2 separate regions of the Homo sapiens genome follow, and region 1 is linked to region 2. The links come from fine-mapping of genetic effects on gene expression. A gene starts in region 2. The other region holds a variant in brackets. All regions are shown on one strand. Distances are from middle to middle.

Evidence for each region. PIP is the estimated chance that this variant, and not a neighbour inherited with it, causes the effect.
Region 1: its variant is the best candidate, but not a certain one, in a credible set for the expression of TMEM169 in whole blood (TOPMed, PIP 0.66).

The regions. Positions count from the first base shown.
Region 1 is chr2:216,153,047-216,161,046 of GRCh38, reverse strand. XRCC5 (X-ray repair cross complementing 5) reads right to left here. Exons shown (of 21, transcript NM_021141.4): 15 at 886-979. It also overlaps the pseudogene POLHP1. Among named protein-coding and RNA genes, the nearest start is that of XRCC5, 48 kb to the right of the region's middle. RefSeq lists an enhancer at 3,611-4,810. The variant A/G (reference allele first, on the strand shown) is at 3,820.
Region 2 is chr2:216,072,971-216,088,900 of GRCh38, reverse strand. TMEM169 (transmembrane protein 169) reads right to left here and starts at 6,982. Exons shown (of 3, transcript NM_001142311.2): 1 at 6,922-6,982. It overlaps PECR (peroxisomal trans-2-enoyl-CoA reductase), which reads left to right and starts at 7,092. Exons shown (of 8, transcript NM_018441.6): 1 at 7,092-7,283. The coding sequence starts at 7,160. RefSeq lists enhancers at 4,137-4,206, 7,331-7,380, 7,411-7,490 and a silencer at 6,881-7,140.

The DNA.
Region 1 (8,000 bases), 76 kb before region 2:
ATTTTTAAGATTTGTTGATTCACACTAATGCTGCTTAGAACAAGGCACTATTTGGCTGGGTGCAGTGACTCATGACTATAATCCCAGTGCTTCGGGAGGCTGAAGCGGGAGGATTGCTTGAGCCCAGGAGTAACATACTGAGACCCCACCTCTATGAAAAATAGCCGGGTATGGTGGCATGTACCCTTAGTCCTAGCTACACAGGAGGCTGAGGCAGGAGGACCACTTGAGCTCAGGATTTCAAGGCTGCAGTGAGCTAAAATCACACTACTGTACTCCGGCGTGGGTGACAGTGACAACCTATCTCTAAAATTAAATAAAATATTCTTCCTCCTGGCTGACCAAGATATAAAAATTAATTAATTAATTAATTAATTAATTAAGGTAGTATTTTCAAGTTCCAAAAAATTTCTCATTCAATAAAAATCTCATGTATCAAAGGATACATTCTTGGGGAAATCCTAAACTTGTGAATCCTGTTCTAAAGTTGCATGTTAGAAAATAGGAAAGTTATACTAACTTAAATTGTGTGTACTTGAAGATTAAGGCTCGTATCACTAACCCCCACTTATCCTATCATTTTGACTAGTTGAAAAGCTGCAAAATAATGCCAACAGCAAAATCTCAACACTGAGATGTTCCACGTTCTATAAAGAGCTCTATATACCTTATATCATATAGATAATTCTGTAGGCAATTCATGATAATAATTACTTAAAGAAGTATGGAATGGGTCTTTTTGGCTTCTATAGAGCAAGGACCAGAGAAAGTGATCATGATCTTAACTTGAAAGTGGTAAGAACGGACTAACAAAAATTGATGCACTCTCCCTCAAGCCCCAACCTTCCTGCAAAGGGGGAAGCGCACTTGAAAAGCTTAGCTTACAGAGGTGACACTGCCTTCAGCCAGACTGGAGACGCTGAAGTGGGCTCCCCCTTGCTCAGTCTTTAATTTTTTAGCTGTAGGTCCATCTTCATGGCTAGAAAAGAAAAAAAAAATTTCTCTTAGAACAAACAATACAAAACCAGATTGCTATTGTGAAACTTATTTTCCAAGCACCAAAAAAAAAAAAGAAAAAAGAAGAAGAAGAAAAGAAAAATAATGAAGAAGAAAAAGAAAAGAAAAACAATAGCTACATGTAGTCCTTCTACAAACAAGCTGCCTCCCTTTCCTAGCCACCGGGCTCCTAAGGGCCTAACTTGAGGCAGCCCTGGCTTTGTTTCACAGCAGTATGAGAATCAGAATTAAGCAATCACATCATAAGGTCCTTGGAAAAGATGAAACTGCAAGCACAGATAATGGAAATTTAACATTTAAGTAAGAAATCCATTTACTCTTCAGATATTATTTTCTAGTTCCTGTCTCAGAATTGACAGCTATTAGCTTTCCATGTACACAGAAGACCTTTGTGTCTAACAACCCGTTTTCTCTATCATGTATGTTAGAGCTTTATAAGCCTCTGTTTACAACTGTCAAAACTTACTAGACAATCCTTAATTAACTATGCAAGAGCTTTCCCTCTTAAAGAAGTCGTAAACTATAAAAAAAAAACTTCCCCGAAAACTTTTTAATTTGTTCTTTTATAAACCTAATTCTGTTTTGTGCAATATGCTAACAGTCCAGTAGCATCTGTGTGCTAAGGAAAAGTATATCAAACATCTTGCCTCAAGCAACATGCTGGCTTTAACAGCCTGTCTTAAAGTCAAGAGGAGGTCAAGTTAATTGCAAAAGAGAAGAAAATCAAATCCAAAGACTCTGCCTGTAATCTCCCTTAAGCTGCTGAACATAAAGAAATTAAGATTTTTTTCTCCCAGAGAGAAATGCAATCTAGGGCAAAAGCAGCCATCAGAAATGGCTAAATGATAAGAGAATTAGTAACCAAGATCTAGAAATTTTAAAAATTCATTTATTTTAACATAAAAATTGTATATATTATCATGTACAAAATGTTTTAAAATATGCATTTATTGTGAAATAGCTAAATTAAGCTAATTATCATATGCATTATTTCATTTACTTATTTTATTATGAGAACAGTTAAAATTTCTCAGCAATTTTCAGGACTAGAATTTCTAAATGTGTTGTTTTTTTGCTCAAAGCCTCAACCTTCAGACAATGAGGCTTGAAAATGAAGTTATTTTAAAAATGAAGCAAAAATAAATTTTAAAAATAAAATGAAGCCAAGAGAAAATAAAACATATATGGGCTTCCTCAATTTCAATAATGAATTTCCTCTTAGAGGTAGGTAAAAGAACTAAAGTAATCATCACAGCCATACATCCATGAATTAAAATTTTCACTATTTGGCATCTTTCCCATTCACCACTAAATGTTTTCCCTTTGAGAAGTAGACAAGAGCAAAGTAGAAGACAGAAGGGTGGGAACCAGGAAACATTACAAGGGGTAAGTCACCCAGAACTCTTTTCTTGCAAGTAGAATAAAAAATAAACACACAGCCTTCGTGGAAAAATGAAAGAAAAAAAGGAGAAATCCAAGGTAGAATGAAATTCCATTAGAAGTTGAGTCTGTTTTAAAAAAAAAGGTCAGAGCCAGTCATTTCAATTAACCTTTGCCAGTTCTTCCCAAGAGACAAGCCAACAACATTAAACTACTGAAGAGTTGGAGTCAAAAGACCTGGATTCTAGTCTCGATTTTGCCACTGACTAGCCCTGAAATCTTACACCTTCTTGATGGCGTTCACTGTGTACTAATTTTTATCTATCTAGAGTTTAGAGTCTAGTAAGCTACAAACCTCTCTGAGCTTCAGTCTGCTCCTTAGGAAAGCACTATGATGAAAACTACCATCAGTATATCAACTATTCTCTTCCACAAATACAGATTAGCTTATATAGTAGTATTAAGAAGGATTACACATAAAAAGCTAAGTTGTGGGGGAATATGAAGTTGAATCACATGAAGAATTTCTTCAACCCTCCAAAATGAGGTTCTAGGGAAAGAAGGGTAAACAGACACATACACAATTTTCCCGTACCAGGCAAGTAAAAGTAGCCCCAGTCATATGCACAACACAGTAAAATTTAGTATGGTTAATATTCTCCAGGCCAAATCATTTAACAGCATTATTAGGAATTTTGCATACACTAAATTCATAATCTCTATGTGAAGTGGGAAAGGGTAATGACTCTCTTCCCTAAATTATCTATGAAGGCGCTAAGCTCTAGAAAGTAGAAATTTATACACACAAGATCACAGTAGACATATAAATGTCAGCAGTTGGTGCATCTGGATGATGAGACCATGGGTAATTTGTTCTTTCTCCTTTCTTATTTTCTTTCACAAACATGTATGAATTTTGCAATTCACTTATTTAGCCTAATATTTACTGAATATGTACTATATATCAGCCACTAAGCTAGACTCTAAACTCTCAATATACAAAAATTAATATACCATCAACACCTTCAGCCAAATAAAAATTGAAGTATACATATAGACAATTAACAAAATACTGTGATAGGCCTATCTCTTTCAGAGGATAGAAAATAGTTGTATTGGCCGGGCGTGGTGGCTCATGCCTGTAATCCCAGCACTTCGGGAGGCTGAGGCAGGCGGATCACGAGGTCAGGAGATCGAGATCATCCTGGCTAACACGGTGAAACCCCACCTCTATTAAAAGTACAAAACATTAGCCGGGCATGGTGGCGGGCACCTGTAGTCCCAGCTACTCGAAAGGCTGAGGCAGGAGAATGGCGTGAACCCGGGAGGCAGAGCTTGCAGTGAGCCACAATGGCGCCACTGCACTCCAGCCTGGGTGACAGAGTGACACTCCGTCTCAAAAAACAACAACAAAAAAAAAAC[A/G]AAAAAAAAAGAAAATAGTTGTATTGGGTTAAAGCATAAGGTGCAAAAGCTGGGACGTAGTGAGAGAAGGAGCTAGAAAACACATTAATTAGGAGCATTAAAAAACGTGAGGAAAGAAAATGGTTTTCTCTAGGCAGCGTGCGTGCTGTCTGTCCTCAGTCTGGTGGCTTTGTTGCTGGGCACACTGCTCTCGGCTGATCCCTGCTGAACTGTGGGGACGGTCGCCTGGGCAGGATCCTTCACGACCCCTTCTCTGTTCCTCTGTCATCACGGGGAATAAATCTCTCGAAACTCTCCCCAGAAAGGCGAAAAGATATTCAAAAGCCCTTCTTCCATTTTCCTTCCAGTGGGCACCGAGCCCAGCATTTGCGGCACCCACTGCTGGCAGTCTGGCCAGGTGTCTGTTACCTTGAAAAATGGCTACTGGACAGGATTGTGTGGTTACTCTCATGGACATAGACTTTGTTCCAATGGAGCAGCGGCAAAATCCTCATTTGAGGAATAAATCTTGTGCAGCTGTGTAGTACAAATCATGGAAGGTGGTAGAATAATTGCAGTGAGTTATGAAGCTCTTGCATTTGGGGTCACTATATGTAGGCAGATGATGCAAAGAAGTTAAGTCCAGGTCTTCTACTGGCACAAGTTCGTGAGTACCATGGGAAAGCTAACCTCACCAAGTACCGGGAAGCCAGTGTTGAAGTGATGGAGGAAGTCTTGTTTTGCTGTGATTGAATGCGTCAGCATCGATGAGGCTTATGTAGATCTGACCAGTGCTGTACGATAGAGACTACAAAAGCTACAAGGTCAGCCTATCTCAGCAGACTTGTTGCCAAGCACTTAAATTGAAGGGTTGCCCAAAGACCCCACAACAGCAGAAGAGACTGTTTCAGAAAGGTACCTCCACAGCATCATATTGCTTCTGCTTCCTGCCTTTGGAACCTGCTTTGCTTGGTCATGCTGATTCTCCTTGGAATGACTGAAAGGAAACTTAACCTATGGCCTCAACGAATCACAAGGACTCATATGGAAGGATATACAAATGTTCTTATCTTTCCAGATATATGGATGTTGAAAAGCTGTGAAATCTGTATGAAAGTATATTTTTCTTTAGATATAACTAGGGCAGATTAGTGTTATCAACACAAGGCAGAAGGTTGACTGAGCACTTTGTCATTGGTAGCTTAATTTATATCATTGTAACTTAGTGTCTTCGCTTCTTCGTCTATAAGAAGGGTGAGCTTTTTAAAGGGGGACCTCAGGTATAGGGAATTCAGTCATTCAAAATTTCTAATGACTTCTTAGCACATTATCAAATATGGGCTGTGCCAGGCCCTTCTCGTTGTATTTTAGTACCTTTCCCCTTCATAGTTATTTTCCCACTCCCTCTGCACCCCACTTACCCTCTTGTACCCACCGATATATCAGATACATCTTAGATGTGTATATATTTTTATTAAGTTACACAGTACTGCTTTATGTATGTGCTTTTTAAGTACAAGATGATATAGGCTATTATAGATCTTATTCTTTTTCTTAATTTTCCTTCAGTGGTGACCTTAGAGATCTGTCCATGTGGCTGTTACTTGCAGCATAATCCATGATATGGATCTACCATGTTTACAGACCATTTTCCCCTAGTGACGAGTACACTGGTTGCTTCTAATGTCCTACTGTAACAGTTTACATTCCCCCTTAGCAGTACACAGAAGTTCCTGTTTCTCCCATATTCTCACCAACAACTGGTATCATCTAATGTTTAAAAATATTTGCCAATGTTTTTTTTTGCTTTGATTTACATTTCTGATTACTAATTGAGATTGAAGATCTCTTCATACACTTGTAAGCCAGCTGAGTTTCTGCTCCTGTGATTTGCTTTTTTATAATCTTTGACCATTTTTCCATGGAAAAATTGAAAAATTATTTTTTGATTTGCCAAGAGGTCCTTGTATATCCTAATTATTAGTTCCTTGTCTTTTTTTTTTTTTTTTTTTGAGATGGGAGTCTCACTATGTTGCCCAAGCTGGAGTGCAGTGGCTATTCACAGGTGTAATAATGGCTCACTGCCACCTTGAACCCTGGGCTCAAATGATCCTCCTGCCTCAGCCTCCAGAGTAGCTGGGACTACAGGTGTGTGCCATCATGCCTAGCTAATTTTTATATTTTTTGTAGAGATGAGGTCTCACTATGTTGCCCAGGCTTTTATATATTTTTTTATTTTCTACTTGGTTATTGATGTGTTGTGAAATGATAAATGGTTTTTTTTAATAAGTTCATTTTTATTTACTTTAAAAAAAGAAAATGGTTTTCTCTAGATAGTTGGATTATGAATAGATGCCTCTTTTCTTTCTGCTTATCTGGATTCTCTTATCTGTGTAAAAGAGTTTGACCTTATGCTGGGGATAATGGGAGGCCATTAGAGCAAGCGTTTTTTAATTGGGGGTCCAAAGATGACATCAAGGAATCTGTGAACTACCAGAAATTATATCCAAACTTCAAAACTTAGTATGTTAAAGCATTTTTCTGGGAAGACAGTTCATAGATTTTGTATCAAGTGAGTTCACTGCACTCTCTGTCTTTCACACATGATTAAGAATCACTACTTTTAAGAATTTTAAGCAAGACAGTGATGGGATCAGGTTTGTTTTTTAAACTCACTCAGGTAGCAGCATGAATTGGAAAGGGGTAAGACAAATTAGGGAAATTAGTGAAGAGCTTATGTCAGTGAGGCAGGCTAAAATGAGAAGGCCTACATAAAAGCAGTGGCAGTGGGCGATGCTATTAAGAGCTTACGTTTCTTTTTAATGCTTACCATGTGCTAGTCACTATGTTACACACATTTAAATTATCTCAGTTAAATTTTGCAACAACCCTATGAGTTAGCTATTATCAGCATCCTTTTACAGATGAGCAAACTAAGCCTGAAGAAAGTTTGATCCCTTGTTTAAAGCACACAGTAAAGGGAAAGAACTAATCCTGTACTCACCCATTCTCCTAACCAACCTCCTGGAAGGCAGGCATTTGTTATTGCCACTTGACACTGAGCAACTTGCCAATTTCAACTGCTTTTAAGGGGAAATGCTTGAGTTTAGCTCCAAATTCGACCCCAAAATCAATGCCATTAGCCACCAGACTAACCTTAAGTGAAAGCGTTAGATTTGAGGTAAATATAATACAACTTGGTAAACCAATTACATATAGAATGTAAAAGAAAAGGAAGACTCCCAAGAAATTAGGTGTCATTCACTGAAATAGAGAATAATAGCATGAAGAGGGGTTGGAAAGGAGCAGGAAGAAGAAAGCAGATAACAAAGCCATTTCTGGCTTACTGAACTGGAGGGGCCTACAGGCACCTAAGCTATTTAGTTGATGGGATAGAAATCCGAGCTGAAGATAGGTATTTAGTAGTTTTTGAGGCTCTGAAATAAAAAAGAGGTCTTGGGACATGCATTGCTAAGGCAAAGTGGCATTACAGTTTGAAGTACAAGCTCTGGAGTCAGACTGCCTACACTTAAATCCTTACTCCAACACCTACCAACTACAATCTTGGGCAAGTTTCTCATCTTCTCTAATCCTGAGTCTCCTGAGCTTTAAGTTGGGGGTCAACAGAAGAATCTACTTCATAGGATGGCAACGTGGGTCCAAACAGATAATGTGTGTAAAGCACTTAGCATCATGTAAAGCACTTAACATATTAAGTTTTGAAGTCTGAATGTAATTTCAGGTAGTTCACAGATTCCTTGATATCAATCTTTGGAACCCTGATTAAAAACCCTTGCTTTAATGGCTTCCCATTATCTTCAGCATAAGGTTCAATAAATGTTTGCTGTTTCTGAGGACAAATTCTACAGAATATCAACACAAAAACACACAAAAGCAGCCCCCACAGGAATCTGAGAGGGAGCTGCCAAAGATTGAAAAAGAAAAATTTGGAGAAGCTGAAGTTAAGACAGATACATGAGTCTCAAGAAAGCAGGAATAACTGACAGTGTCAAGTGCTTCAAAGAGGTCAAGAAAGCAAAGAACCACAAAGCCGAAGTGAATTTAGCAGTTAGTGTCTTTTGAAAGATGAGTTTCAAGGATGTGGTGGGGGCAAAAGCTGGTGAGAATGAGAGCTGAGAAAGGTTGCAGAATAGACTATTCTTCCAAGAGCCTGGCTTCTGGAAGGAAAGATAATAATTAGA
Region 2 (15,930 bases):
AGCATGTTCAAACCAAACTCATCTTTATTTACAGCAGAGAACCTCTCAGTGTTACCGAGAAAAAAGGAGAAGGGGGAAAGGAAAGGAGAAAGGGATAAAGAAGGAAACACCACAACATTTATGGAATTTACCGATTGTGTAATTTGGTAGGTTCTGTGTTGATTATACAGTACATGCATTATCTCACTGAATTACACATTCAAAAAATATTTACGTATTCATTTATTTTTAGAGATGGGGTCTTTCTATGTTGCCCAGGCTTGACTTGAACTCCTAGGCTCAAGCAATCCTCTCACCTCAGCCTCCTGAGTAGCTGGGACTACAGTCATGTGCAACTGTGCCCAGCTTCAGTAAATATTTATTAAGCAACACTATGTGCTATATATTGCATAGTTGTTCTAGGTACAACAATTTTTGTCTGTTTGTTTGTTTGTTTTGAGACGGAGTCTCGCTCTGTCGCCCAAGCTGGAGTGTAGTGGCGTGATCTCAGCCCACTGCAAGCTCCGCCTCCCGGGTTCACGCCATTCTCCTGCCTCAGCCTCTTGAGTAGCTGGGACTACAGGCGCCCACCACCACGCCCGGCTAATTTTTTGTATTTCTTTTTTAGTAGAGACGGGGTTTCACCGTGTTAGCCAGGATGGTCTCGATCTCCTGACCTTGTGATCTGCCCGCCTCGGTCTCCCAAAGTGCTGGGATTACAGGCGTGAGCCACTGCACCCGGCCTGTTTGTTTTTTTTTTTTTTGAGACAGAGTCTCGCTTGGTCACCCAGGCTGGAGTGCAGTTGTGCAATGTCAGCTCACTGCAACCTCAGCCTCCAGGTTCAAGCGATTTTCGTGCCTCTGCCTCCTGAGTAGCTGGGACCACAGGCATACACCACCATGTGCAATTAATTTTTGTACTTTTAGTACAGACAGGGTTTCACCATGTTGGCCAGGCTAGTCTCCAACTCCTGACCTCAAGTGATCCATCTGCCTCGGCCTCCCAAAGTGCTGGGATTACAGGTGTGAGCCACCATACCAGCCTAGGTACAACAATTTTATGAAGCAAGTATTATTTTGCAGAAGAGGACACTTGGACTGAATAATAGTAACAACAGAAACTTATTGGATGTTTATTGTGTGCCAAGTGCTGCTCTAAGTACTTTACAATAATCGTATTGTTCAATATTCACAGCAAACCAGTGAAGTAGGTACCTTTATTATTCCCATTTAGAGGAGAAATTTGCTCAAGCTTACATAGCTAGTATAGTGGTGGGACTGGAACTGACACCCAGGTTTGCTAATTTCAAAGCCCATGTTATTTTCATTGTGCCATACTACCCGCCAACATTTATGCAAAGATCTATAAACTTCTAGAATGTTCTTTGATGAACCCATTTCCTATATTAAGGACATATTTCCATATACCTAATAATAATTAGTCTCTAAGTCCTGCTAGTCATTCCTATGAAATCTTTTTGTTAATTTGTTCATTTGAATTTCTACTACCACCATATGCCAGAATACAGCCTTCATACTACTTCCTCTAAACTGGAAGACATTCTAAAATGGAAGACATTCCTCTACCATTTTTTACCATATTAATGGTGATTAATAAACAAAACAAAACAATATTTTTATTTTGTCTTGCCATTACTGACTAAAATATATCTGAAGGCCTGTCTGGTGTTTGAGGCTCTCCGTATTTGCACCCCACCCTAGGATTCAGTAGCAATTTTCCCCTTCCCTTTCCTGCAACGTGACTACTCAACACATGTGCTTATGTTGGTTTCTTCATCTTTGTCACGCTTCTCCACATCTTTCAAGCCTGGCTCAAGACAGACTCATTCGCTCACGTCCCCTTCTGTGACTACCCCAGCCCCCACGTCCTCTCCTCCCACCCTAACCCTGTGTTGCAGGTGTGTGGTGAGAATTCAATGAATGGCCCAGTATAAAATGCCTAATATGTGACTGACACTTCATAAATATTAGTTTCTATTCCCTTTCTTTTGCCTCCTTCTATTTGTAATTTAATAGCATTTGCCATCTGAACCATACACTTAATACTTAATTATGCAGCATTTCATATCATTGTATAGATTATAGATGGCATCATGAGTTTTCATTCATCTTTCTAGGTAGATAACAAACTTCTAGAGTTTAGGAACTGTCTTACTCTTCTTCTTAACCACCAATGGGAAAACCCCAGGGCTGGACATGTAGTACAAAGTCAGTATGTACTTGTTGACTTCATAGGACACAGAAGAGAAAATGTCTTACCAGAAATATGACATAAACAACTGTTAAGAAAGAAAGGCTTGATTCTCTTCCCCATTTTTGTATACTTTATTATGCTGTAAGTATTTGATCTGAGAAGCAGGTTCTAAACATTTCTCCTTCCTTTTAGATTTCACAAGAGAGAGGTTAAAAGAAAATTTTACCCAATTTCCAAGGCTTTAATCAATAGACTTGAGAGAAGAGAGAGGACTTTGTTCTTTTCTCTGGCAGTTAAGCTGTGCCCATCTTCCACTTCCACTTCCAGTCTAAAGATTATTAACAGGCTGGTCACGGTGGCTCATGCCTGTAATTCCAGCACTTAGGGAGGCCGAGGCAGGTGGATCACTTGAGATCAGGAGTTTGAGACCAACTTGGCCAACATGGTGAAACCCCCTCTACTAAAAATACAAAAATTAGCCAGGCATGGTGGCACACACCTGTAATCTCAGCTACTCCGGAGGCTGAGGTAGGAGAATCGCTTGAACCCGGGAGGCAGAGGTTGCAGTGAGCCAAGATCACACCACCGCACTCCAGCCGGGGCAACAGAGTGAGACTCTGCCTCAGAAAAAAAAAAAGATTCTTACAAATGTGATATTACAGAGTGTTAGCTTCAATCAACCATTAGCTCTGTACTCTTGGTCATTGTAGGAGGGAAAACAGGTTTTTAAGAACATGCTCATACTCTGGAACTCGTGCTTAGAATAACTGCTTTTAAGCCACTCTTGAAAAAAATTATCCAGATAATTCTTTTTTTGTTTTTGTTTTTTTTTTTTGAGATGGAGTTTCACTCTTGTTGCCTTGGCTGGAGTGCAATGGCGTGATCTCAGCTCACCACAACTTCTGCCTCCTGGGTTTAAGCGATTCTCCTGCCTCAGCCTTCTGAGAAGCTGGGATTACAGGCATGCACAACCATGCCCAGTTAATTTTGTATTTTTTAGTAGAGAAGGGGTTTCTCCATGTTGGTCAGGCTGGTCTCGAACTCCCAACCTCAGGTGATCCGCCCGCCTTGGCCTCCCAAAGTGCTGGGATTACAGGCGTGAGCCACTGCTCCCGGCCCAGATAATTCTTAAATTCATCCACCCAACTTTCCCATCTCCACTGCTTCCCCTCTGGTCTAGGAGGCCACTGTCTCTTAACTGTGGTTCTAAAAAAAATGCTCCTATCTTCCAGCTTCCACTCTTGCTGCCTTCCAATCAATTCCTCACTCAGCAGTAAGCAACATCTTTTACTTAATTTTTTTAATTTTTTGAGACAGAGTCTCACTCTGTCACCCAGGCTGGACTGCAGTGGCACAATCTCAGCTTCCTGCAACCCCCACCTCCCCCACCTGATTCTCCTACCGAGTAGATGAGATTACAGGCGTGTGCCACCACACCCGGCTAATTTTTGTATTTTTAGTAGAGATGGGGTTTCACCTCCCAAAGTGCTGGGATTCCAGGCATGAGCCACCCAGCCAGAAACATCTTTTTAAAACATAAAGAAAATCAGATGGTCAGGCGTGGCAGCGCGCACCTGTCGTCTCAGCTTCTCGGAAGGCTGAGGCAGGAGAATTGTTTGAACCTGGGAGGCAGAGGCTGCAGTGAGCCGAGATCGCTGCCACTGCACTCCAGCCTGGGATACAGAGCCAGACTCCATGTCAAATAAATAAATAAAAATAAAAAAGAAAATCAGGCTGTTTTCTGCTTAAAATCCTCCTGTAACTTCCTACTGTTATACATGTGGAAGTCCATGTGGCCTAAGGACCTCCCCATCCTGCCACCCCATCTGTACCACCATAGTAGGGGTACTATGCTCCAATCACACTGGCTGTGTATTTCTTCCTCAAGAGCACCAAATGCTTCCAAATGCTTGAGGTCTTCTTAACTGCTGTCTATCTTGCTGCTCTGCTGCTCCACCCCGCCTCTTCCTGTGCCCGTTTTTGTTTTTTTGAGTCCTTGTTCAAATGTTTCCTCCTCTGAGCCCTTCTTGACACCCGAACTAAAAACTTGACTCCCTGCTCTGCCTCTCATTATTCTTTATCACAACAGCTTGTTTCCTGTGTAAGGCTTACCAACATTTGTCATTATTTATTTTTCTTTTACTTATTTATTGCATAGCTCTTCTACTAGACTTCAAGCCCTATGAAGTGGTACCATAGAAGTAGGCCAACAAATAGATGCTCGATAAATCTTTTTAAGTGACTGGGTGAAGTGGTAGCAACTCAGGAGTAGCTTATTTTTTGTGAAAGCCTGAGACTAAGGAGAAGTTTAATAAAAAGACATCAATAAGCTCCTTTATATGCCTTGTTATGGCACAATTGCTAGGTAGTTTTGCTTCAAGGTAGGGGCAGGACCAGATGCTTCACTGACATTCTCTCAGCACTGAGATTCTGGGAGTCTAAATGTCGAGAATCCCACAAGCCCCTGTCAGTCTGAGCTAGCAGCTGCTTTGCAGAGGGGAGAAAATAAAGTTACCAGGCAGATGGGGTGGGGGAGGGGTGGGAAGCTGAAGGCAGTCATTGCTAATGGGGTATGACAGAGCTGTGGGGAGAGGTTCGGGGGTGTGGGAGGACCTTGGCCACAGGAATGCCTTTTTCCCCAGGACAAAGAGGGCAGTGACGCAGAGCACAGGGAAGAGCAGCATTTGATTCAACCAAAGGAGTGGTCAGTGCAGCATGGCGTGGTTGCCTTCGGAAGAGATGCCTCAACCAGAGGCAGAACTAAAATTTCAAAACAAAGAGCTTCCAAGCAGCAGATCTATTGCTCTGCTTCCAGGCCTTTTGGCCTGGAACTTAGCGGATTAGTGGACTTTCAAACCCTGACAGAGGTCAGAGGCAGAGGCAAAGAGATCATGCCTCCTAATTTTAAACAAAAGATCGCTTGAAGAGACCCCAAAGCTCTCTTAATTGCAGGTTCTGCCTGGATCATGAAAAATCGCCTTCTGACTGTTCATCCTGCAACTTCCTTGCAGCTGAGGAATGGCACCTTGTCATCCTCAGTAGGCATAACCGGTTTGCAGGCCCCAGTCCCTGTTTCACTGGAAGACATCAGAATCCCACTCTCAGTCCGCTCAGCAGCCACACGGAAGCTGCAGCACAGCCAGCTTCCCACTGACCCACCCTGGCACACCTCTAAGAATCTATAGGTCCAGACCAGGGCATAAATCATGTTAAGTTATATCTTCAATAAAGTTATCATTTAAAAGAATTTAAAGTGTCCCCACCCACAAGAAAGAAAGTCTGGACTTCTCTTGAATAAGATACCCCTCAGAACTGAATCAATATTTCTTTTCCTTAAAAAAAAACACCTTGTCATTGGGATCAAACCAAGAGGAGTTATATGTTTCTGCAACAACACTTTGAGCTTTCCTGTTTGAATTTACTTTGTTTTAAAGGAGGTGATGGCGTTGTAATTTTAAAAATTTGGTCCTAACTACAGAATTGACTTAAGTAGTAGAGTTAAGTGATTCCTGGATAAACTATCTAGCAAATGGTAACCAGGAGATTTATTCCTTTCTTTAACGAGTGTAGATTTGAATCTGTCAGCAACAAAGATAGAGGGAGAAGTGATTCTAAAAAGAGATCAGAGAAGGACAAGAGGATGGAGCAACAGGGAAGTGTAGCTGTCCAACAAGAACTGCAGCCTCGCTGGTGGGTGGGACCTGGTGGAGGAAGTGATGGTCTGATTCCTCTGTCAACCAGACCCATTTCCAATTGGCTTTGTGAATCCTAGGTGGTAGGTCCAACAAAAGGATGATGGCATTTATTTGCCTTTATATTATTTTAATACCTGTCCGGGGAAAATGCAACACTCTGACAACAGCCTTAGAAATAGCATCCCATCTGGATTGTTAAGACCACAGCAACTGGCACATTCGACCAAGTTCTTAGGGTGAAGTCTCAGTAGGCCAGTCCAGGTGTAATCTCACTCTGGTGGGTTCAGAGCGGGAAGCAAGATGAAAAATAAGGAGCAGATCTGAATAATAAATCACTGTTACTGGGCACCATAACACAGACGAGAAATTTTCCCCATCCTCAGCGGGCTCACCCTCCTGCACAAGGAATGAACTACAGGACATGATCTCAAACACCTACAGATGCATCTTGCAGGAAGCGTGCACCCTTCAAGGAAAGATCCTCTTCTGGACTCGCTATGCAGCTCAGCTGAAATGGATCAGGTCTCAAACCTGGTAAAGATGATCTTTCCCCTTGATTCTTGGGTGGGGAGTGGGAGGTGAGACGGAGGTGGGCCTGAGTTTATTTTTTCAAATCGTTTATTCTCTTGGTTCTGTGGAAAACTGCAACCGCATCTCCTCTTCCCCTTCACTCTCTTTCCCGGGCTCCCTCCCGAAGGATGAAAGGATCTGAAAGCCGCATTTCTCCCCCTCAGCTAAGCCTGCCCTTTCTCCCCTTCCCAGCCAGCGGCACACAGCACCTGGAGCCACAGCATCGCCGACGTCCGACCCCGGCAGGCGGGCGCAGCGAGGGCGCCGAGCAGCAGCCTTTCTTTTTCCAGCTGCACTGGAGATTTAATTTTAATTAATCGTGAGAGCTTCAGCCCTGAGGATTGAATTTTTGAAATAGAGCACACCCTGCTTGTTTCTTTCTTCTTCTTTTTTTTTTTTTGCATTTCCCTTCCACCCTCCCCAATGGCATCGAAATTTAAAGAAACGAACGAGCAGTCTCACCCACACCTGCCCAGGGACCGACGCTGGCGGAGGTTGCGGACAGCCGGCGGGGAGCGGTTCTGCTCCGGGAGGATGCGGCTTTGCCGCGGCCGGCGGGCGGGGCGGGGCCGGGCCGGGGAGGGTGCGGGGTTCTGGTGGTCACGTGGGCTCGAGCACCGCCCTGTCCGCCCGCCCGCCTCGAATGTCCCTGAGACCCAGAAGGGCCTGCGCTCAGCTGCTCTGGCACCCCGCTGCAGGGATGGCCTCCTGGGCTAAGGGCAGGAGCTACCTGGCGCCTGGTTTGCTGCAGGGCCAAGTGGCCATCGTCACCGGCGGGGCCACGGGCATCGGAAAAGCCATCGTGAAGGAGCTCCTGGAGCTGGGTACGTGAGCGGGCCGCTGGTGCAGAGAGGTGGCTGTGGTGACCTGGGGTAACCTGGAGACGGGAGCCAGGAGCTCTCGGCGGGGCTGAGGGAGTGTGGAGCTGCAGAGCAAAGACGGGGCAGGTGTGGGCGAAATTACGACCACCAGGGAGACAGAAGAGAGCAGCTCTTCCTAAGGAATTGTGGAGCCACTCGTTAAAAACTGAAGAGACCACTCAGGCCAAAGAGACTGTGCCCCAGGTAGGCAGTAAGAAGAGCAGTGAAACATGCTGTGCAATTAGTTTTATATTCAGATTTAAAATTAATCCATTCTATATGCTTAATGTGAGTGATTAGGAAACGTGGGAAGACTTCATTTAACTGGAAAAAGTTGTGAACATAGTGAGTCTCTCATAGTATCTTCTCACATCTCTTAACCACAGCAAGGAAATATGCTGAATATTTACCTTAACTTGGGTGAAGGAAGGCCTTTGTAAACACATAAGTGAGGGAATAAACCACAAAGGAGAACATAAATCAATCTACCTGTATGAAAGTGTAAATCCTCATTGAATTAAAAAAATATATAAAGTTTAAAGGCATATGAAGAAAAATATTTGCAACATAAGATAAATTGTTTGTTGGTTTTGAGATAGGGTCTCACTCTGTTGCCTACGCTGGTCTCGAACACCTGGGTTCAAGGGATCCTCCTGCCTTGCCTCTGAGTCCTAAAGTTTTGGGATTACAGGCTGAGCCACTAGATTCGGCCAACAGCCTTATACATAAAGAGCTCTTACAAATAAAGAAAAAATCCAACACACTGATAGAAAAATTAGACTAATGGTATGGACTAAGCGTTCCAAAAGAAGAACTACAGACAGGCAAGAAACATATGAAAAAATAATCAACTTTATTGGTAATAAAATATGAAACAGTAAGATTTAACTTTTCTAACAAAATTTTGAAATGTTGGGAAAAATTAAAGTGTTGATGCAGGAATGAGAAGGCAGGAATGTAAATTATTACAAACTTTCTGGAAGGCAATTTGGAAAAAAAGATCCAAAAACCTTCACAATGTTTATGCTCTATGACAGTAATTCCTTTTTCAGGAATTTAAGGAAACGGAGTCAAGCAAAGATTTTCATGCAAGGATGTAGTCTTGAGTAGTGAAAAAATGGAAATTACCTAAAAATCCAATATAAGGAAAATAGTTAAATCAATAACAATGAAATATAATGCTTCCGTTTAAATATCTTGCTATTGGTCCTGGCGCAGTGGCTCACGCCTGTAATTCCAGCACTTTGAGAGGCCGAGGCGGGCAGATAACCTGAGGTCAGGAGTTTGAGACCAGCCTGGCCAACATGGTGAAACTCCATTTCTACTAAAAATACAAACCAGGCATGGTGGCGTACACCTGTAGTCCCAGCTACTTGGGAGGTTGAGGCGCAAGAATCGCTTGAACCTGGGAGGCAGAGGTTGCAATGAGCTGACGTCAAGCCACTGCACTCCAGCCTGGGCAACAGAGCGAGATTCCATCTCAATAAATAAATAAATATCTTGCTATTGAAGACTTACTTGGAGAAATGCATACCATATTATTGGGAAAAGTAGAATTCTAAACCTAATAGCATTCCAATTTTACTTTTTTTTTTTTTTTGAGATGGAGTTTCGCTCTTGTTGCCCAGGCTGGAGTGCAGTGGCGCCATCTTGGCTCACTGCAACCTCCGCCTCCTGGGTTCAAGCGATTCTCCTGCCTCAGCCTCCCGAGTAGTTGGGATTACAGGCACGCACTACCTTGCTAGGCTAATTTTGTATTTTTAGTAGAGATGGGGTTTCTATATGTTGGTCAGGCTGGTCTCCAACTCCCGACCTCAGGTGATCCGCCCGCCTCGGCCTCCCAAAGTACTGGGATTACAGGCGTAAGCCACCGTGCCCGGCCCAATTTTACTTTTAATAAAATATATACATGCAGGGCCGGGCACGGTGGCTCATGCCTGTAATCCCAGCACTTTGGGAGGCCGAGGCGGGCAGAGCACAAGGTCAAGAGTTCGAGACTAGCCTGGGAAAACATGGTGAAACCTCGTCTCTACTAAGAATACAAAAATTAGCCAGGCATGGTGGCGTGTGCCTGTAATCCCAGCTACTCAGGAGGCTGAGGCAGGAGAATGGCGTGAACCCGGGAGGCAGAGGTTTCAGTGAGCCAAGATCGTGCCGCTGCACTCCAGCCTGGGCGACAGAGCAAGACTCAGTATCAAAAAAAAAAAAAAGTATTACATATGCAAAAATGGACTGGAAGGAAGTTTATAAGATTTTTAGCCATTTTTCTGAAAATAATGTTAATTATGAGTAATTAAAATTGTCTTCGTCTTTTAAATATTTTTTAATGAACATCTAAATTATCTTTGGTTACGACTGTGTTTCCAACATCTGGCACAGTATGAACTAAAAAAAAAAAATCTATGTTTTTAGTTAAAAAAAAAAAAAAAAGCAAAAACATTTCCTAGTAAGGCCATGATGTAACCTCATCACCATTACTGCCCAGTTTATTCTCAACACCAAGCTCTATCCTCTTTCAGGAATATCTGTAAGAAAATCAGAATCAGTTATCAATTCATGCATAGGTCAGATACTAGGCTTCTCAGCAGATTCGTAGGACCCTAGTCCACTTTGAAGGATTTTTAATAGATTTTTATGTATTTGAACTTTCATCCTGTTGCATAAGTGTGCTATTTGAACTTTCATCCTGTTGCATAAGTGTGCTATTTGAACTTTCATCCTGTTGCATAAATATGCATTGGCCAAAAACTACACCCCTGGAATAAGGTGATAGACTATATTTTTCTTACCACAAACTAAAACATTAGGACATTGGTCTTGTAATCTTTTGGAAGACATGAATCTGTCTGAGATTCTGATGAAAGTGGTGGCGTGTCTTTTGAGAAAAAGACATCATATACTTAAAAATATATATACACAATTATTTTGTTGTATTGGAAATGGATTTCCTTCAGTGAAAGAATATTAAAAATCTTTTTCTTTTTTTTTTTTTTTGAGATGGAGTTTCGCTCTGTCGCCCAGGCTGGAGTACAGTGGCGCAATCTCGGCTCACTGCAACCTCCACCTCCCAGGTTCAAGCAATTCTCTGCCTCAGCCTCCTGAGCAGTATTTTTAATAGAGACGGGGTTTTACCACGTTGGCCAGGCTGGTCTTGAACTCCTGACCTTATGATCCATCCCCCTTGACCTCCCAAAGTGCTGTGAGCCACCGGGCCTGGCCATAAAAATCATTTTTATAATTACTTTTTCCTCTTTATTTTTTTATGCCAGAATCAATGGCTATTTCCACGACATTGTCATATTTTTACTAGAGATGGGGTTTTGGCATGTTGGCCAGGCTGGTCTTGAACTCGGACCTCCAGTGATCTGCCCGCCTCAGCCTCCCTAAGTGCTAGGATTACAGGCATGGAGGCCCCGCGCCTAGCCTCCAGTTTTCTTTCTAGTCAGAAGGCCACTGTTTTTTGTTTTTGGTTTTGGTTTTTTGGTGTGAACTATGTCTTTTTGGCATGAACTTTGAGGCATGGTTTTTAAAATGATGATATTTTTGCTTTTTTTTTTTTTTAACGAAAAATACAGGTGTTTTCTTTTTTACTTCATACTATGCCAGATGGTAACCAAAGATAATTTAGATGTTCATTAAAAAATATTTAAAAGACGAAGACAATTTTAATTACTCATAATTAACATTATTTTCAGAAAAATGGCTAAAAATCTTACAAACTTCCTTCCAGTCCATTTTTGCATGTATAATCCATATTTTTTTTTTTTTTTTTTTTGAGACGGAGTCTTGCTCTGTAGCCCAGGCTGGAGTACAGTGGCACGATCTTGGCTCACTGCAACCTCTGCCTCCCAGGTTCAAGCGATTCTTCTGCCTCAGCCTCCTGAGTAGCTGGGATTACAGGCACATGCCACCATGCCTGGCTAATTTTTGTATTCTTAGTAGAGACAAGGTTTCACCATGTTTGCCCAGGCTAGTCTCGAACTCTTGACCTTGTGCTCTGCCCGCCTCAGCCTCCCAAAGTGCTGGGATTACAGGCGTGAGCCACTGCACCCGGCCCTGCATGTATTTTTTTTTGAGATGGAGGTCTTGCTCTGTCACCCAGGCTGGAGTGCGGTGGCGCGATCTTGGCTCACTGCAAGCTCCGCCTCCCGGGTTCAAGCCATTCTCCTGCCTCAGCCTCCCTAGTAGCTGGGACTACAGGCACCCACCACCACACCCGGCTAAGTTTTTGTATTTTTAGTAGAGACGGGGGTTTCACCGTGTTAGCCAGGATGGTCTCGATCTCTTGACCTTGTGCTCCGCCTGCCTTGGCCTCCCAAAGTGCTGGGATTACAGGCGTGAGCCTCGGCACCCCGGCAAATATTTTTTATTAAAAGTAAAATTGGGCCAGGCGCGGTGGCTCATGCCTGTAATCCCAGCACTTTGGGAGGCCGAGGTGGGCGGCCACCTGAGGTTGGGAGTTCGAGATCAGCCTGACCAACATATAGAAACCCCATCTCTACTAAAAATACAAAATTAGCCAGGCGAGGTGGTGCGTGCGTGTAATCCCAATTACTCGGAGGCTGAGGCAGGAGAATCGCTGAACCCGGGAGGCAGAGGTTGCAGTGAGCTGAGATGGTGCCATTGCACTCCAGCCTGGGCAACAAGAGCGAAACTCCATCTCAAAAAAAAAAAAAAAAGTAAAATTGGAATGCTGTTAGGTTTAGAATTCTATTTTTCCCAATAATATGGTATGCATTTCTCCAAGTAAGTCTTCAATAGCAAGATATTTATTTATTTATTGAGATGGAATCTTGCTTTGTTGCCCAGGCTGGAGTGCAGTGGCTTGACAGCAGCTCACTGCAACCTCTGCCTCCCAGGTTCAAGTGATTCTTGTGCCTCAGCCTGCCACGTAGCTGGGACTACAGGTGTGTGCCACCATGCCTGGCTAATTTTTGTGTTTTTAGTAGAGATGGAGTTTTACTATGTTGGCCAGGCTGGTCTCGAACTCCTGACCTCAAGTTATCTGCCGGCCTCGGCCTCCCAAAGTGCTGGAATTACAGGCGTGAGCCACTGCACCAGGAACAATAGCAAGATATTTAAATGGAAGCATGTATATTTCATTGTTATTGATTTAACTATTTCCCTCATATTGAATTTTTAGGTAATTTCCATTTTTTCACTTCTCAAGACTACATCCTTGCATGAAAATCTTTGCTTGACTCTGTTTCCAAACATTGTGGCACATGTGGTGGCATGGCACATGCTTGTAGTCCCAGCTACTTGGGAGGCTGACACATGAGAATTGCTTGAACTCTGAAGGCGGAGGTTGCAGTGAGCCGAGATCACGCCACTGCAATCTGGCCTGGGTGACAGAGTGAGATTCCATCTCAAAAGAAAAGAGAAGAAAAAAATTGGCTAACATTTTCTTTTTTGCTCAATTTGGGTTTATATAACAATGTCTTTCACTTCCACAGGATTTTGACTTTTCCTTTTTCTGAGAGGACACAGAAAGCTTTAGCTCACAAAAGCAGGATATTGTAGGCAGAATTAGATCTCCTTTATACCTTTGACAGGTGCTGTTAGGCAGAGAGAAACCTGATTTCATCAAGGAAAACCTAGCATCGTCAAGTTGAATTCATATCAGATGTTTTTTTATCTTCAAGTTAATCATTCACTTTCTGTTACTACAGTAGAACATAAATTAGGTATAGTAGATAAAATGCAATTAGGAAATGCCGGTGGAAATTATGACCCAAGACAACATTTTTTCTTGCTCTAGTCTAGTCTAACTAGCCTGTTACCAACACCAGGGACCAAGAAGGTGCTGAATAAATGTAGTATTCTGAGTTGAAGATGGAAAGGGATCAGTATCAGCCTAAGCAGGAACGCAGCATACTGGGGCTACAAGCCTCTGATGTTGAAAGAACTCCTTATCCACAAGCTACTTCTATACCTATTCTAAGCAGGTCAGTTGAGCTTTCTGCATCTCTCTAGCTACATATAAACAAAAATAAAGTCTATTGAAATGATTTAGCATGAAAGGCAAGGATTATATATAATATTTTTCTAGTTTATTATAAGGTAGCATAAGAGGTTTGCAATAAATTAAAACAGTATAGAAGTGTATAAAAGAAAAAAATGAGCTTTACCCATTCTGCCCTTTTTCTAAATTCCCTTCCTGGTGATTTTCTACAAATTTAATGTGCACATGTATACACACGTATATATATTTTGTTTTCTACAAAATTGGGATCACAGTATTCTTACTGCTCTGTAATGGTTTTTTTTCCTACTTAAATATCTTGTTTTTTCTTTGTTTTGTTTTGTTTTTTAGAGACAGGATCTTGCTCTGTCACCCAGGCTAGAGTACAGTAGTGTCATCATAGCTCACTGCAGCCTCGAACTCCTGTCTGAAATGATTCTCCTGCCTCAACCTCCCAAGTATCTAAACTATAGGCATGTGCCACAATGTTTGGCAATAAAAAAATTTTTTTAGAGACAAGGTCTCATCCAGGATGGTCTTGAACTCACCACAAGCGACTCTCCAACCTTAGCCTCCCAAATTGCTGGGATTACAAGCATGAGTCACCATGCCTGGCCCATATCTTGTGTTTTTCAATGGTAGTATTGTAGTCATATCTCATTCATTTTAAAGCTGCATAGTATTCCATTGTGTGGGTCTGTAATAACTTATTTAACCATTTCCTGAATGGCCATTTAGGTTTTTATTTTACCCAGCATTGCATTGTTTTTCCCTGTAATATGTTTGCACCCTAGTTCAAGTTTGTCTATAGTGGAAAGTTCTAGCAGTGAAAGTAAATGGACTTGTAAAGTTGTATTTCAGTGCATCTTTACTTGTAGTAGACAACTGTCCTGAAGTCTTGAGGTTTCAGATAGTAACTAGTTATAATTTAGTAAACTTCTATTTAGATAATCCATGTGAATCATCCTATTTATATTCTCAACATATTTTTTACTCGAGGTCTTGGACAAAGTTAGGCATTAATCACCTTGGTGTTCTTGTTTTCTCTCTCTCTCTCTTCCTTCCTTCCTTCCTTTCTTCCTTCCTTCCTTCCTTCCTTCCTTCCTTCCTTCCTTCCTTCCTTTTTTTCTTTCTTTCTCTCTCTCTTTCTTTCTTTTCTTTCTTTTCTTTCTTTTTCTTTCTTTCTTGACACAGTCTCACTCTGTCACCCAGGCACAATCTTGCCTCACTGCAACCTCTGCCCCCAGGTTCAAGCAATTCTCGTGGCTTAGTCTCCTGAGTAGCTGGGATTACAGGCGTGTGCCTCCATGCTCAGCTAATTTTTTTGTATTTTTAGTAGAGGTGGGGTTTCACCATGATGCCCAGGCTGGTCTTGAAGTCCTGAATACAAGCGATCCACCGGCCTTGGCCTCCCAAAGTGTTGGGATTACAGGCATGAGCCACTGCACCCAGCCTAGGTAAAGTTTTTCATCCCTGCCCTATAGAGCCTATGCCCTACTCTGGGAACTAGAGCAAAAAATGTGTATGTTGAAGGCAGAAATATCAAAGAAAGAAGTGGGTGGAGGAAGTGGTGGCTTGTCCTGGGGTGCTTATTTCTCTCCTTTCCATCTCACTGATAAGCTCAGCTATTTCTCCTAAGTGACAGAAACCTAACTGAGTGTTGGATTAGTCTAGAAGTATATACAGTCATGTGTCACTTAACACAGGGAAATCTTCTGAGAAATACATCCTTAAGTGATTTCATCATAGTGTGAACATCATAGAGTGGTAGGCAAACCTAGATGGTATAGCCTACTATATACATGGTTTATATGGTCAATAGCCTATTGCTTCTAGGCTCCAAACCTGTACGGGAGGTTACTATGCTGAAGGCTGCAGGAAATAGTAACACAAAGGTAAATATCTGTGGTCTAAACATATCTAAACATACAAAAGATATAATAAAAATATGGTATTTTTATTATAAAATTATATAAAAACATACAAAAGATATAATAAAAATAAAAGATATAGTAAAAATATGGTATAAAATATAAAAAATGGTACACCTGTATAGAGCACTGTATAGGACACAGGAGCTTACGGGACTGGAAGTTGCTCTGGGTGAGTTAGTGAGGGAGTGATAAGTGAATGTGAAGGCCTAAGACATTATTGTTTACTATTGTAGAATTTATAAACACTGTACACACAGGCTAAACTAAATTTATAAAAAAATAAAGTAATTGCAGCTATGACATTACAGTGGCTACAGCACCACTGGATGATAAGAATGTTTAACTTCCACTTTAATCTTATGAGGCCACTGCCATACATGTGGTCTATCATTGACCAAAACATTGTTATGGGGTGTGTGACTGTGTTTCAGTTATTTTTCCTGCTGGAAGAAGAGGGCCCTCCTGGAAACAAAAGGAGAAAGGAGTAAGCTTCTCCTAACAGTATAACGTATGTTTTTGTTGCACATTATATATTTTGATAAATTAAATTCCATTTTAAAGTTAGGCAAGGCTTACAAGGAACTTATGGTGAATCTTTCCAATTTTTGCTTTATAAAACCCTCAGATTGCACACGAGAATTTCCAAAAGTTGTTACCATTTTTAGTTTACTAAATTATAACCTAAACTTTAAACATAGTTTTTAAAATTGTC